Regions from separate parts of the Homo sapiens genome. Here region 1 is linked to region 2. Evidence: fine-mapped expression QTL. Tissue or cell type: hippocampus. Region 2 holds a variant in brackets; the other region holds the start of a gene. All regions are shown on one strand. Distances are between the middles of the regions.

What was found. PIP is the estimated chance that this variant, and not a neighbour inherited with it, causes the effect.
Region 1: NGLY1 starts here. The variant in region 2 is fine-mapped to the expression of NGLY1 in hippocampus (GTEx, PIP above 0.99). The same link has a PIP of 0.9 or more in pituitary and unexposed skin.

The regions. Positions count from the first base shown.
Region 1 is chr3:25,779,046-25,787,135 of GRCh38, reverse strand. NGLY1 (N-glycanase 1) reads left to right here and starts at 3,693. Exons shown (of 12, transcript NM_018297.4): 1 at 3,693-3,876. The coding sequence starts at 3,746. RefSeq lists a silencer at 3,504-3,743 and enhancers at 4,054-4,103, 4,264-4,343, 5,731-5,900.
Region 2 is chr3:26,073,901-26,082,055 of GRCh38, reverse strand. It overlaps LOC105377001 (a long non-coding RNA gene), which reads right to left. Exons shown (of 3, transcript XR_940662.2): 3 at 1,334-1,467. Among named protein-coding and RNA genes, the nearest start is that of LINC00692, 200 kb to the right of the region's middle. The variant G/A (reference allele first, on the strand shown) is at 4,090.

The DNA.
Region 1 (8,090 bases), 290 kb after region 2:
TTTACTGTTAATCAAAATCACCTGAAGGGCTTGTTACCACACAGATTGCTGGGTCCCACCTTTAAATGTGGAGCTTCAGAATTTGTTTTTCTGACAAGTTTCCTGCTGATGCTGCTGTTGCTTGTCCAACCACTGCTCTAAACTTATGACTTCTATGAAAGTAGGGACCATACTTGTCTCCTTCACAGTGCTGAGCAACTAGTAGTCACTTCATAAATACATGATGAATGAATGAATTATGGAATGAATAAATCAACATTTATCCTTACATTTGATAGTACACATGCACTTTTTGTGCATTTCTCACCAAATGACTTTTGCGAAAACCAATGCCATAGCATTAATATTGTGATAACAATGTACAGTCCATAAAATCATGGAAATCACCATTTTAAAAAAATCATCTGAAATTTAAGTCCTTCCAAATAACTCTTTAGCAACACTTCTGTTAAAGTTCTTGAGTAACTGTAATCTCTTTTGAATATTGCCATTTATAAAGCTATTAAGGGAATCCATTATATAAAGGGACTTGGTCTCTCATTTTCCTGGCTGCTTCCCCCACTTCAGTCAAGTTGGAGATATTCTAATTCTTCCATTTCCTTTAGAAAAGCTGAATAAGCTACCCTAACTTTTATACCCATCGTTGTTTCAAACAACCAAAGAATGGGTACTAAATCAGCATTGAAATTCTTGTTCTTTTATTTATTTATTTTTGTTCCAAAATAAAGATTTTTTTTTTCCCCAGGATTTCACCTTTATTAAAAACATCATTTTTAGAGTTGACATATCATGGCGCTATTCTTTTTTTTTTTTGAGGTAGAGTCCCGCTCTGTCACCCAGGCTGGAGTGCAGTAGGGCAACCTCAGCTCACTGCAACCTCTGCCTCCTGGGTTCAAGCGATTCTCCTGCCTCTCAGCCTCCCAAGTAGCTGGGACTCCAGGTGTGCACTAACACGCCTGGCTAACACTATTCTTTAATAAAACAAAAAAGAAAGAACTCTGTAAATTTTCCCCACGATTGGTTTGGTGATATTAAAAAGTTAACCTCCATAAAAACCATTAGCAAGGGGAGGAGTTGAAGTCTTTCAGGAATTTGTATAGTGATTCACTATTGTGTGACTACATTGAGTGATTAACCAACAACTCTATTCAGTACCTGCTGTGTGCAAAGCAGTCTGAGACAGATGGCACAAGAGACTTTTAATCAAATAGGGAAGACAAAACTAATGATAACTTACAGTGAGATAGCGTTTTAGTTGAGGAAACAAACTATTATGAAGAGAAAAACAAAAGTCATTTTGTTCCCCCACAAAAGTACCCTATGACCATTCTATCTGTCAGGGGAAAGCCTTAGCTGACAGCTTTCTGCCCTTCACTTGACACCTCTGCTTCAATACCAGAGCATTTCCACTTTGGTGTTTTGTATATAGACAATCTTCCTATGTTTTTGTTTTTGTTTTTTTTTTGTAGAGATGGGGTCTTGCCATGTTGCCCAGGCTGGTCTTGAACTCCTGGGCTCAAGCGATCCACCTACCTCGGCCTCCCAAAGTATTGGGATTACAGGCGTGAGCCACCATGTCCAGCCCCTAAAATTTTATTTGAAAAAAAAAAAAAAGTTCTGTTGCATTTTTAAAAGTTACAAGTACTGTATAATATATACTATTCTCATATAATTAGTAAAGGATAAATAAATGTATCAATGGAAAAAGAAACCCAAATTAAGAGGAATAAAGTTTGTGATAGCTATATCTCCAGACCCAAGCCCCCAATCCATTGTGTAGTTGGACGAGACTACATTTCCCAGACTCTCCCCTTTTATCTTTTTATGTGTTTTTAAATTTTTTTTTTATTTTTTGTAAATCTGGCCTTACTGAAATACCCCCTTTTATCTTGATGAGGCCTCATTCTTAGTAATGATATGGTAGAGAAAATGCTGTGTGTCATTTCTGGGCTCATGTGGTTAAAAGTAGGTGTGACTTTTTTTTTTTTTTTTTTTTTTTTGTCCAAGCAGGCTGCCTGGATTTGTAAATAAAATTTCACTAGAACATAACCATGCCCATTTATTTTCAAGTATTGTCTGTGGAGCAACAGCTGCAGAGGCAGAGTTAAATAGTTGAGACAGACCTTATGGCTCACAAAGCCTAAAACACTATGTGGCCCTTTACAGAAAATGTTTCTTGACCCCTGTTCTAAGGTATGGAAGGAGACTGGGTCCACTGACATTATGACACCTGCATTATTAAAGTGTTATATGAGCCAGAAAGAAATTACTCTTGTGTTAAGCCCCTGAAAATTTTAGTTACAGACGGTAGTAACATACTACTATCTGTTGAACACACCATACTTGGAAGGTGGTCCAAAGATTTACATATTTATTAAAAGCGTACGTATATTTGGGAGACGAATAGTCATTGAACTGGATGTCATAGCTTAGGGTCTTGTTCGGAGATTCTGGAAGAAAATTTCAATTCTTAAAAGTAAACAGATGAAACATCAAGAAATTTAAAAGAGGTTATTCAGGCAAATCACTTATCTTAAGAAATAAAGTCAAGAAAAATACTTCGTGAGGTTGAAAAGGAATTTCTGCAAAGAAGGAAGCCACTGGTAAAGTACACTTTCAAGAACATGGTGGGGAAGAGACTGGATTAAAGTAGTAAGGGATGCATCTTCTAAGAGGAATAAAAGACCTTGATCACATGATCTACCTAAAAAACAAGTCACAAAATATTACTTACCCTTACTGTGTGGGATGCAAATTTTTATTCCCTTCCCGCCCCCGACATTCTATAATATTGCGTAATTATTATGCATGTGTTTTACGCTGGTCACCACGCGGTAAACCGAATCCACAACCCATTATTATGTCGCAACCTATGGTTTAAAAATACACTTCCTTACAGAGGAATCATATACTAGTTGAGCTGGAACTTAGATTTTCAGTCATTAGCCAAATTCTGAAAAGAATCCATATAACAAACCCAGCAGAGTTTATAGCCATGGTTTTGTTTTTGACGTTTGTTGCTCCTTCCTTCTGTAGTCTTTCATCCACATCTATGTAGAACGTCCTGACAATCTGCGAAGAGAAGGCTCTAAGGTGGTTTTATTTGTGGGGAAAGGAGGGAGGTACATGCGGTTTCTCCACCTTAATAGCTGGATCAATTAGGCTGGCCCCGGAGCGCAAAGGGATCCGGGTTTCTGAGAGGCACGTGCCAGCACCATTCGCCCGATACCTCTAGACCAAAGCCGGCCTCCCCTCCAGCCGAGCTCCTCCGTCCTAAAGGACTCGACATCCCCCTCCTCCAGGCCCACACCCCTCAGCCCCGGAGCCCAGGCCCCGCCTCTCCCTGCGGAACCCCTTCCCAACCTGTACGACCAGGCCCCAACTCTGGGTCGAAGCACCTCGCCCCTGCCGGCCGAGGCCCCCCACCTTCTTCCGAACAGCCCCTTGCCCCCCGCGAAGGGGCAGCCGTAGCTCCCAGCCGAGCTCCCCCGCTCCTGGCCCCGGTCCCCGACCCCGCCCCAGGCCCCCGACCCCGCCCCTGCCGGCCGAAGACCCCGCCCCTGCCGGCCGAGGACCCCGCCCCTGCCGGCCGAGGACCCCGCCCCTGCCGGCCGAGGACCCCGCCCCTGCCGGCCGAGGACCCCGCCCCTGCCGGTGGCTGCGGTAGCTGCTGCGCGCTGAGGCGCCTGCTCAGTGTGGGACGCGGAGAGCGAGGGGCGGCGGCGGCGCCCGCTGGCGCTCAAGCATGGCGGCGGCGGCATTGGGCAGCTCCTCAGGCTCGGCGTCCCCGGCCGTGGCTGAGCTCTGCCAGAACACCCCGGAGACCTTTTTGGAGGCCTCCAAGCTGCTGCTCACCTATGCTGACAACATCCTCAGGTGCAGGGCAACGGGGTCGGACGGCGGGTACCGGGGTGGGTGGGCCGCGGCACCTTGTTCGGCCAGGGACTGGGGCGTCCGGCCTGAGCTTCAGAGGGCAGCGACGCCCGGACAGACCGGGACCTGGAGCTGGTTCTGCTCCTAACGTCCGAGCCCGCCGGCCAGGGGCCTCGGGACCCGGCCAAGTCCCACCCCCGCTCGAGAAAAGGAAGTTTCTTTGCAGTTGTGACTTGGCACCTGCAGTCAGGGTGCTGCGGGTGAACTGGAGTCCCGGAAGCGGGGCCGGGCGGAGGAGAGGTAGGAAGGCGTGCTTCAGACACTGCCGCTCTTCTCGTCGTTTAACGGCCTCAGATATCGGGACACAACGGTAACCGCACCGCGCGTGTCATTCCCCCTGCGTGCATTTTTCGAGCGGAGTGGCTTACATTTCCACATACTTATCAGAAGTTACTCACTGACAAAGTGATGTTTTCTTCCCATGTTGAGACTATCCGAGTACTAAAGCATAATGCTTCTGAAGTGGTGGGTTTTAAAATTTTTAATTTTTTTTCTGCCCACTTTTGTTGATTGAAACATTATAGTATTTTGAAGTTACAGTTTTTATATTAATACCTGGATTCTACTATGTAACATAACCCTTTAAGAATTCGTGGAGGTAATCGCCTTGGATGAGAGTAATTTCCTTCATTCTCCTGTCAGCAAAATTGCACTTCTAGAGGTCTAAGGGACCTTGCAGATTTTGGGAATTGGGAGGCAAGTTTGATTATTCATTTTGAATAAGTACCCACCTCAACTCTTCAGATCAAATGATCTGAAGGGACATGGTGTGGGGGGGTAGGGAAATGGAACTGAGGTTAAAGGAGAGCCACTTGCTTTAGGGGTGTTACCTCATTTATCAGGTCACCGTGATTAATTAGGTTCTCTGTTCCCCTCAGCCCCTGGTGCATTAAGTGTTTGGTATATTGTCATGAAGTCTAAAAGGAAATTCTCAGTTTCAAGGTTATAGGTTTCACGTGACCCAATTTTAGACATTAGTTACATGTGCAGTTTTTAAAATCCATGTCAGTAATATTTCATTTAGGCAATGGTAATGATTTTTAAAGTAAATTGAAGGGAAAATATATTGAGCCCTTATTTTGTGGCAGATGCTATGAAAGATGCAACATGTGGCCTGTTCACAGCTACATAATTGTGACCTGTGTGGGGACCACCTTCGTGCTCTGTGACACCTTCTCAACTCACCTTTTTTACTCTTTGAGGCCTTACAGCTCTTCACAGTACAAGGATGCCAAGGGACTCCATAAATGAACTGATAGGCTGGGTTCTCCAGAGCCCATTAGCTGAGACTTACCACCTGGAAAGCCACCAGGCTATTTAAAACCCCACTAGTCAGAAAAGAGAGGTGGCCTTGTAATGAAGCCTCACTTCTGCTTTAAATCTAGTGAAACCCAAAATGCTGAGGTTTAGTATGAGGGGGAAACCTTTGCATGCAAATAATGACATTTAGCATCATAATCTTCATTATGAATGTTTACTAATGGCTCGTTGCTGATTTTCGTTTTTGAGACGGAGTTTGCTCTTGTTGATGAGGCTGGAGTGCAGTGGCGCGATCTTGACTCACTGCAACCTCCGCCTCACAGCTTCAAGATTCTGAAAGATGAGGGGTGTGACAATGAGCGCAAAGGATAGTGGACACACTGGAATAATGCTGAGAAATTAAGAGTTTAAGAAAGTCTTTGTGCGTTGCTTTTCCAAGGATAGGAAAGAGGATATGATGGGTTTGAAGTCTAATGTCCCTACAGCCCTCTAAGTCTTTGAGGGCTTTAGGGTCAGGCCTTTGGTATCAGTCTATACACAAAACCACGGTCAGTTTACTCAACATACTTAATAAGAAAAAGAATTTGAGGAACTGGATGTGACTGTCATTGCTGGAGCCTGTTTGCAGTATACTTTTACTGAGAAAAATAGATTAATGTGAGGTCCAGAGATGATATAAAAATAAAATTGCTCACTGGGCACGGTGGCTCACACCTGTAACCCCAGCACTGTGGGAGGCCAAGGTGGGCGGATTGCTTGAGCTTAGGAGTTTGAGACCAGCCTGGGCAACATGGCTAAACCCCGTCTCTACAAAAAAATTAAAAAATTAGCCAAGCGTGGTGGCAGACACCTGTAGTCCCAGCTACTTGGAGGGCAGAGGTGGGAGGATGGCTTGAGCCCATAATCATGCCACTGCATTCTAGCTTTGATGGCGAAGTGAGACCTTTCTCAAAAAAGAAAAAAAAAATGCTCACTAGAAACTAAAGAGGAAAATCTATATTGTATATCAATAGTTAAATGGTAACAACATATATCAAAATAACAAAGGCCAGTCGAAGTGGCTCCAACCTGTAGTACCAGGGCTTTAGGACACCCCAGGTAGAAGGATTGCAGCCGGGGCAACACAGTGAGACCCCATCTCTTAATAAAAAAAAAAAATAGCCAGGCGTGGTGGCTCACCTGTAGTCCTAGCTACTTCAGAGGCTGAGGCAGAGGATTGTTGAGCCCAGGAGTTCTAAGCAGCAATGAGCTTTGATGGCGTCATTGCACTCTAGCCGGGGTGACAGAGCAACACTTTGTTTTTTAAAAAACAAAACAAAAACTATATGAGAACTGATGTGTATTTTATAAGAATTTTTAAACAATTGTGAAAGCAGGAAGAAACTAGAAAATTAGCCCAGAGAAAGACCCAGCATGTAGAGATCTGAAAGCTGTGAGGAAAAGAATAGATTAAAATAGCTCAAGCAGTTTTGAACCAGTAGGATATATCATCCTGGTGGTACTGACATGTTTATCACCCTGTGAAATACATTGAGTGTCAGGAAAAGATGCCCCATTTATCGAAAACTAGCTTTGATAAATGTAGGATTATTTTATAGTTCAGTTTTCTTAAGTGATAAGAAAGAGAGGCTCACTTGTGAGACAGTGTAGCATGGAAGCCAGGAATGCGAATGTTCTGCAGTGCACAAGGAAACTCCACTGAGAAAAGGCCCCACATGTTAATGGTGCTGAGACTGAGAAACCCTAATCTAATACACAGAATAAAGAGTTGAGAATAAAATTTTCTTTGTATTTCACAACCATCTGTGATTCTCAAATTACATATAGTAAAGAACAATGTTTTTGTTTTAATTTCCAATCCCTTATGGACCTATAACTTTTGTAAAATACACTGAAAATTTCATGGCAATATCAAATTGCTGTATACCGAACATTCAATTTCTCTACTTCTTGCTTCATTTTTATGCACTTGTAAACAAACAAAGAAAAAATTTCTGTACTACTTGTGTATGGGTAACAAATAATTTGTAGATTAGCACCAATCTGTGGACATTTTGAATAGCAAAAAAAATAGAGCATTTGTCTCTGAATATTCTGTAATAAACATGATTTTTGAAATTAGGGAAAAGTTTAAAAACATTCATTTAGTATTTATGACACTTTGGCCAATAGGCAATTGACTGGTGAAAAACAAATGCAAAATTTGTTAAAACTTATAAAATTAAAATATTTGGTTTTTGGTTTTGTTTTTACGTCAGAATACCTAGAGAACATGTGTAGATAGGACAAAGTTGATAAGTCATTTGCTAGCATTTGCCTACTCACCATATCATACCCCAGGGCAGGTGGCTTCTTATGGAAGTACATCTTCCTATGGATCCCAGATACTGCCTCAGAATCCTCCTTAACATAGTACTTAAAGAAGTCACTATCACTTTAAGGCAGTTGGTGTCAGGTATGAAACTTATCATCCTAAACTATGTTCTGAGGGTCTTTTGAATATAATACTATGATTAGCTTAACCTTACATTCTTTTAATTTTTTTTAAACAATTCTGATTTATCAAAGTAATTAAAAATCTCAAACCAAAACTTTTCATGTGCTGGTTACTTGTCCCAAGTGTACTATTCAAAATCTTAATTATGGTAAAAGAAATTTATGTCTTCCTTTTATTGCCATACTGTCTGTGTCAAGAATATGTCTTGGGCCAGGTGCGGTGGCTCACGCCTGTAATCCCCAGCACTTTGGGAGGCTGAGGCGGGTGGATCACCTGAGGTCGAGAGTTCGAGACCAGCCTGGTCGACATGGTGAAACCCTGTCTCTACTTAAAAAATGCAAAATTAGCCAGGAGTGGTGGTGCACCCCTGTAATCCTAGCTACTTGGGAGGCTGAGGTGG
Region 2 (8,155 bases):
AATCAATCCATGAATTGGGCCTTCACACTTATTTCCTCCCTCAGCCACAGCTCCTCCTCACTTGGCACCATTAGGATTCCATTTGCTTGCATAGACTAAATTATTCTGTGGTAAGAGGCTTCTCGATTTGTGTATTAAAATTTTACCTACATAGGTTGCTTTTAATTTGCAATTCAATACCAAATTACCCATTTTCTCTTATTTGTATTCCCAAGTCAATGACTACATAAAGAAAGTAGCTCCTAAATTCTTTTAAACACACGTTTAGAACTCACTAAATATTAAATGTTTATAAAAACAAAGACCACTGAAAACAGACCTCTAAGAAATAGACCTGACAAGAAATTGTGGCACCTGAAAGGTGAAAAACTGAGGGAATGACTGTATCTCATGAAGTTCAAAATGCAGACTTTTTTTTCCTGTTTACATCTCAGAAATTGAGCTATATCTTATAGTTGGACAGGCTACAATTATGATGTAGTTCTGATTGCTGGCACAGGTGTAAATTTTGGTCACAGATGTTCACAGTTGGCCCTTTGAGGAGCTGTGTGAATTGTTGGTCCTCTAGGGGCTGACTTTAAATGCTATTTAAAATGATTTTCTGCTTGCGTTAGGTTGCTAGGCCTGCCATAGGAAAATATCACTGACTGAATTGCTTAAACAACAGAAATTGATTTTCTCATGGTTCTGGAGGCTGGAAGTTCAAGATCAAGTTGCTGGCAGGGTTGGTTTCTCCTGGGGCCTCTCTCCTTGGCTTGCAGGTGGCCAGCTTCTCACTGTATCCTGTCTCTAACAGGGACACTGGAAGGTGGGAAGAGAGGAGAAACAACTTTTTTTTGTTTCCAGTTCCTATCAGCTTTGCTCAAATAACAGAGGACAGCTGCAGTTACAGCCTTCGGATTCTTTTGGCAGTTCTGGATCCAGCCATACAGTGTGCCCCTAGAGAGATGGCCAGCCATGCCCATGTCAGCCACATTGTAACCCCCTTAGAGGTTCAAACACCAGACTCACAGGGCCAAGCTCCTAGGTCAGTGAACCTATTTTTATTCTTTATCATGGTATCAGCAGTTACCATATCTAGGTAGCCTCAGCGTCCATTTACCATATCTAGGTAGGAACAGCGTCCTGCATAACCAGTTCCCTGTATCAAATTGTCTCTATTTGAAATACCTGGCGTGGTTTATCTTTTCATATCTGGACCCTAACGAATATAGTTTCTTAAATTAGATGAAATATAATACCTCAATAATATTTAAGTGCATCTAAATTATCTGCTTATCTTTAATTATAGAGTTTCAATAAACCTCATTATGTAGATACTTAACCTCAATTCTTCACTTCTTCAATTTGGAGCTTTAGAGTTATTTTCTGTGTTCTCTTTTTCATCTTTACAGTTTCACAATAAGAGATAATTGGCTTTGTATTGTCTTCGTGGCTTCTGAAAGCTTTATTCACTGAAAGCTTTATCTGTAAAAGGTAGACATAAACAAAGGAATATACACACAGTTTTGCCAAGTGTAAAATGCACCTGTTTTTTGTAACTTTTAGAAGAGATGATTTTGAAAATATTTATAACAGAATATTTTCATGGATAAAAATGTCCTGGGTAAATCCAGATGCCACTGAGGATGAAAAAGCTTCCTAGATTTGATTCCTAGATTCTCTTTCAGAAAGTTGTTAACATGTGAGTTCTGGTCTTTGCTCACTAGAAATCTCTAGATTTCATGTCTGATACTAGCACTACTACCACACATCTCTATGACCTTAGGTAAGCCGCTTTCTACTCTGACCTCTATTGTTGCCCCCAAGAAAAACAAAGGGTTGGACAAGATCAGGGAGTCAAACTCCTTTAATATTACATACATATTTTGTCCCGCAAATCCCATATTTTAAAATTTTTTATCCACTTATACTGCACTTAAGTTTGGATTTCTCAGTATTTATTAGTCATAGACACAAACAACTTTCAATTGGATATTTGGAATTTTAAGTTTCTTATTTTTAAATTCACTTCAACTTTTTCAAAATGTTGAACATTATTCACTGGGCTCCATTATCATGTTCCTGAGCAGCTCTGCAGATGTTCTGATCTATTATCATGTTCCTGAGCAGCTCTGCAGATGTTCTGCTCCATTATCATGTTCCTGAGCAGCTCTGAAGATGTTCTGATCCATTATCATGTTCCTGAGCAGCTCTGCAGATGTTCTGATCCATTATCATATTCCTGAGCAGCTCTGCAGATGTTCTGCTCCATTATCATGTTCCTGAGCGGCTCTGCAGATGTTCTGCTCCATTATCATGTTCCTGAGTGGTTCTGCAGATGTTCTGCTCCATTATCATGTTCCTGAGTGGTTCTGCAGATGTTCTGCTCCATTGTCATCTTCCTGAGCAGCTCTGCAGATGTTCTGGTCCATTATCATGTTCATGAGCAGCTCTGCAGATGTTCTCCCTCATTATCATGTTCCTGAGCAGCTCTGCAGATGTTCTCCCTCATTATCATGTTCCTGAGCAGCTCTGCAGATGTTCTGATGCATTATCATGTTCCTGAGCAGCTCTGCAGATGTTCTGCTTCATTATCATGTTCCTGAGCAGCTCTGCAGATGTTCTGCTTCATTATCATGTTCCTGAGCAGCTCTGCAGATGTTCTGCTTCATTATCATGTTCCTGAGCAGCTCTGCAGATGTTCTGGGACTGTAAATGCTGGTCACAGTAAAATCCACTTCCCTTAGCAATCAAAACTCTGCACTCTTATGTGAATTCCATGATTTGTGTCAGAGAAAGAGCTCCATTGCTAGAATTGTCATCCAAATATACATAAAGGGAGCCACAATAGAATGGGACAAAATGGACACAAGCATCTGTTTTTTCAGAATCACTTTATTGATCACTCCCCACAGAAGCTAAAGCCATCAAATGACTGCTTTTATTCCAAGACTCAATCATGCATGGAAAGACAAATGTTTGAGATTTTATGTGTTCATATAATCACAGAATTGAATGGAACTTCAATTAATTAATCCAACTAGATCTTTAACTTAAAACCATTTTTTTACAATGGCCCTGGACCAGTGATTGTCCAAACTGTGCCTGAATAAATTACACTGACAGGTATGTTTATAATTCAAACTATGCAGACACCCCTAAACCAGCATAATTTTTATTGCCTGAAACCAAGGGCTAGTATCCCTTTCATACTCCATTACTGACACAGGGAAGGAAGGTAGTCCTTAAATAATATCTAATGCTAAAGAAAAGCTCAGATCTACTCAACTAGCATTTACTGGATAGTTTTGCTTTAGCTCACCTACATGAGATGGAAGTCATCACACCCTATGTTTATCTGCACAGGCAGAGAAAAGGAGACAGCGAAAGCAATCATATGGATAATTCAGGTCAATGTGAAAATGCAGCTATTGAAGTAAAAGAGAATTCAGAGTTATCTGAATCACCCAGATTGCCATTTGTTTTGGTTACATTGAAATAACTGCTCACTCTCTACTTAATCTGTATATTCAATCTCTCCCATATGCCACATTCATTAGAAAGAACATTTAGGCTTCCTTTAGATGGTTTTTCCTCTTTTGCAACTTACATTTTTAGAAAAGATTTGTATCACCCATTATTCAAGTAATTATCAGTTTCTAGCAGACTTGTTGATTTTCTTAATTAAACTTAGCTAACAAATCATTAAAAAAAGAAAAATGCAACAGTTTTTCCTAGTCCAGTTAATTAACTATTTCTTATTTTATTCTAAGACTCCTAGACTAGAAAGTAAATTGTGCAAGAAGCAACAGTTCTAATTTTACTACTGTCATCTTATGCTCCTGGTTCCAGGTTGCCAAGAAAATAATTATCTTAGAATACTGCTATTTATTGAGAATAGCATAACCAGCTTATGTCTTAAGGCAGATGATAAAAGGAAGCCATAAAAGAGAAACAACTTTTGGAAGTTTCACAAAAGAGACATGCAGGCTTTCAGAAACATCTCAAATTATTTTGCAGTGGTAAAATTTGTTATAATGAATATTGGACTTTTTATCTCATCATACTGCCTCACTTACTTTCTGACTAGAAATTGAATACTGTTGC[G/A]GTTAAAATAAATCGTCTCCCTTTTCAAATATTTTCCTATGGTCAAAAGCCATTTCCTTTCTCATTTTCTTAAACAAATCATTCATTTCTCTGTAATATTTCTCAAAGAAATCTCGTTTATTCAATTTCATAGATACCAACCTACTCCTGGTCCTAATTCCTGCCCCGTGGGTGATCATAATAATCCCTACACTGCGCTCCCTGCCTCCAGTCTTTCCCTGAATACAGTATAGTTGTACTGTGGGCAGGGGGAAGAGTGCCTGGGTTTAAATCTCAGCTCCAGCTGAGTGACCTTTGGTATGCTACTTTACCCATCTATTCCTCAGTTTTTTCATCTCAAAAATGGGGGTAATAGCAGTACATACCTAATTGATCCTGGAACTGTTTACGCCCTTTCCGGCTCTGTATCATAGGAGTGCCTCCCCTATGATACAAGCTGAAAAGGGTATAAACTGCATTTCTCAGGGTCACATATCAACTGGCTTCCACTGGGATCAGCCAATGGGTGGCACTAATGGGAGAATGGAGGGTGGGGGGAAGGAAAAAGTTCAGGGGTCCCTCTCCTCCTTGAGCAGGCTCTCCTGCAGTAACTGTACTTTCTCCACAGCTCTCTTGGGGTAGGCCCACCAGGGTTCTAAACTAAACCAGGTGACACCCAGCTCTGACCTGCAACATGCTACTTCCCTTTGTCCTGCCACCCTAGGGGTGACAGCAGCTTCCTGGTGCTGCTCATCTAAGCTGCTTCAGCATCACTTGTTGGCTTCCCATCTGTTTTATCCCTGTTAGATAATTTCTTGCATTAACTCTCTTCTATTTAAATACTTGAAGTAGGGTTTTCCTCATTAGACCTGGTTAAACCCTGAGTAATCCAGTACTTCACTGTGTTTCTGAGAGGTTTAAATGAGTTAATACATAAAAATGCTGCAAACAGTACTTGGGATTTGATAGATATGAGTAATTATTAAATATTTTTACATATTATTGTTCCATTAAGTAACTAGAAATCCCCTATGCTTTACTCTTCTGGGGATAAAATTGAGTTCACATTAACATTAATATTCAAATTTCACAAGCTTAGTTACTTTACCTGCGAGAAATCAGAACGCTAAAAACCATTTTACCCCCTCAGTATTCTAGGGTCCCCAAAGGTGACTCACATATACCCACAAACAAGTTGACTTCTTCTTTGTAAAATCTGTAATTTAGCATAGTATCTAATATACACATTGTATTAGATTCCTAGGGCTGCCACAACAAAGTACTAAAAACTGAGTGGCTTGAAACCATAGAAATTCATTTTCTCATAGTCAGAAGTCTAAAATGCAGGAAGCTGGGAGTCCAAAATCAGTGTCAGGAGAACCATGCTTCCTCTGAAGTTTCTAAGGAAGAATCTGTCCTTACCTCTTCCTAGCGTCTGTAGTTCACCAGTGTATCTTAGCAAGTCTTGGCTTGTAGCTACATCACTCCAATCCCTGGCCCCATCATCACATGGCCTTCTCCCTGTGTGTGTCTGAATCTCCTGCTTATAAGCATACCAGTCATTGCATTAGGGCCCACCTAATCTTAATTTGATTACATCTGCAATAACCCTATTTCCAAGGAGGTCACAATCACAGGTAGAGGGGACTTCAGTATCTTTTGGGGGAAGACAATTCAACCCACAACACATATGTTTTGCTTTAGACATATGTCTTGTGTGACACTAATTATCATAAGATGCCTGACGCAAGCATGATCATATCCATTTTAGAATTGGAAAGGCTAAAGTTAGAGAAATTAAGGGAACTATCCAAAGTAATGTGGTTATTTTACAGTCAGAACTTGAATTCTGGTTTTAAGGATCAAGTTCACTTCCTTTCAAATTGTATCATTTAATACTTGAATTCAGTGAGAACACCAATTTTAGAATCTTGGGACTTGAGGTTTAGGTTCCTTAACCCCTTGAGGGTTGAGCTGCTCACATTGTGAGGGAACTGTAAAGTAACATACAAAGGGCATGGATAGAGGGAAGAGTGAATAATTGCCACCCTTATTGCAACTTTGCTGCCACAGGGGTAACTGATGAATAGTTTCCTTCTCCCAGCTAGCTTTAAGTCTCCCCAGCCTCAGAGGCTACCAGTATTAGGACCACAGAGCCATGAACATCTGAAGTTTATTGCCTCCCCTCTTTACCCAAAGAGTGATCATCCTGCAGTCCCTCAATACATTTTGAAACTTCTTATAATTCTGTAGCTGGCTTCCACATAAGGCTTGAGCCTATTCAAAAGGAAAGGGTCATCATTTTAGAAATATGGAAGTACTTGTAGAATGGAGAAACGTATAAATATTTTTACTGCAGCAGACGGAATCATTTACATTGAATCGTATTTCTCTTTTTGCAAGTTCTAATATTCTTCATATTTCAACAGGTTTAATTTTTCATTTTGACACTGATTCAACCTCCTCCTCAATAGCTTATATCTATAAAAGCATATTTTAGAAATCTCTGTGAGGGGTTCTCTTTGTTCTTTTAAAAAACACACATATTAATAGTTTTCCAATGAGTGTATTCATTTGCTTAGTTTTTCTCAGCAAACATTCTTTTTCTAGATTCCACTCCTTTGCATTTATTCATGATTACATTCATACATACTGGTATGTCATTGTTCCTCAATAAATGTTTATTCAATAAATAAATTAGCATGTGCATGAGCTTCATTAATTCTCCATCAATAATGCCCATAAATAAAAGGTTACATTGGTCTTGAAATGTGTTAGTATCCTCCCATAATGACCCTGAATTTGGCCATGTGAGTTGCTTGTGGTGGAAGTGCCAGTTCTAAACATATGCCTCAAAACACATTGAACACTGCTGCTTGCTATCTTGAGCCCCTGAATCCACTATGAAAACAAACCTGAACTAACCTACTGAAGGATGAGAGACTACATGGAGAAGAACTGTGTCATCCCAGCCAAGGCTGTTCTAGCAGCCCTCTGCTGACCTGATCACAGATGCAGAGAGAGGCTGAGCATAATCAAGCCCAATTTCAATCAGCAAAAGCACCAAGCTGATCCATGATGAGACACAGTAAATAGTTATGGTTTTAAGGCATTTAGTATGGGAGCTGTTTGTTATGCAGAAATAGTTATCTGATGCAAAGACCAGTGTGGCTGGATTGCAGGAAGCAAAATGTTGTGCTAGATGAAGCAGGAGGAATAGACAGGGAATAGTCGATGTAAAGCCATATATACAGTAGAGAAGATCTGTAGTCCCCCCAACACATTTACTCTTCTTAAAGCCCCAGATTTGTTGCTAGAGTCTGTGCTTTCCCCAGTCTCAGCCCACGTGGTTTGTTGTGAGGCAGAATCTAGGTAAAGCATGTGATCCAGCCCTTGACCCCTAAGTATATCCTATTCCCATAGCCATAGTACTGGTTCAGGGAAGAACACATGACCTAAGTTAGTCCAATCAAAGTGAATGGCAGGGCTTGGATTGAGACTGCTGGGGTAAGGGTTTATTCCCACAGCACACAAATCAGAGTTGCTGGTAGTTGTGTTATAGCCACAGGAAAAGATCTCATTTGAAAAGAATCAACATAAAAGAGTTAATAAGTAGAGAGAGGAAGCATATCTTTATTAAATCTTTTAAAGTCCTGTGTCTACTAAGCCTTATTAGATAGAATTACCCGATAACATTTCCTTTTTTTGCTTAAGTCAGCTTGAATTAGGTTGCTTGTTACTTATAATCAAAAGAGTCTGAACTTATCTGCATTAAGTAATTTTATCCTTATCCTAGGAACACTGGGAAGACATTGAAAGGCTTTAAGCAGGGGAAAGATGAGTACATTTTCACTTCAAAAAGATCCTTTGGCTACTGTGTGGGAGAGAAGTTCCAAGGCAGGTATTAGAAGCCAGTTAGGATGGTTTTTCAGGAGTACAGGTGAGAATAAATGGTAACTTAGACTAGGGTTGGGTAGAAATCAAGCCAACTTCGAGTAATCACTTAACAGAAATAAAGGCTATATTAAAGCAAAGGGATATCCCAGGCTTGCCAATTCTACCTCTGTCTCTGTTAACGAAGCTGGGC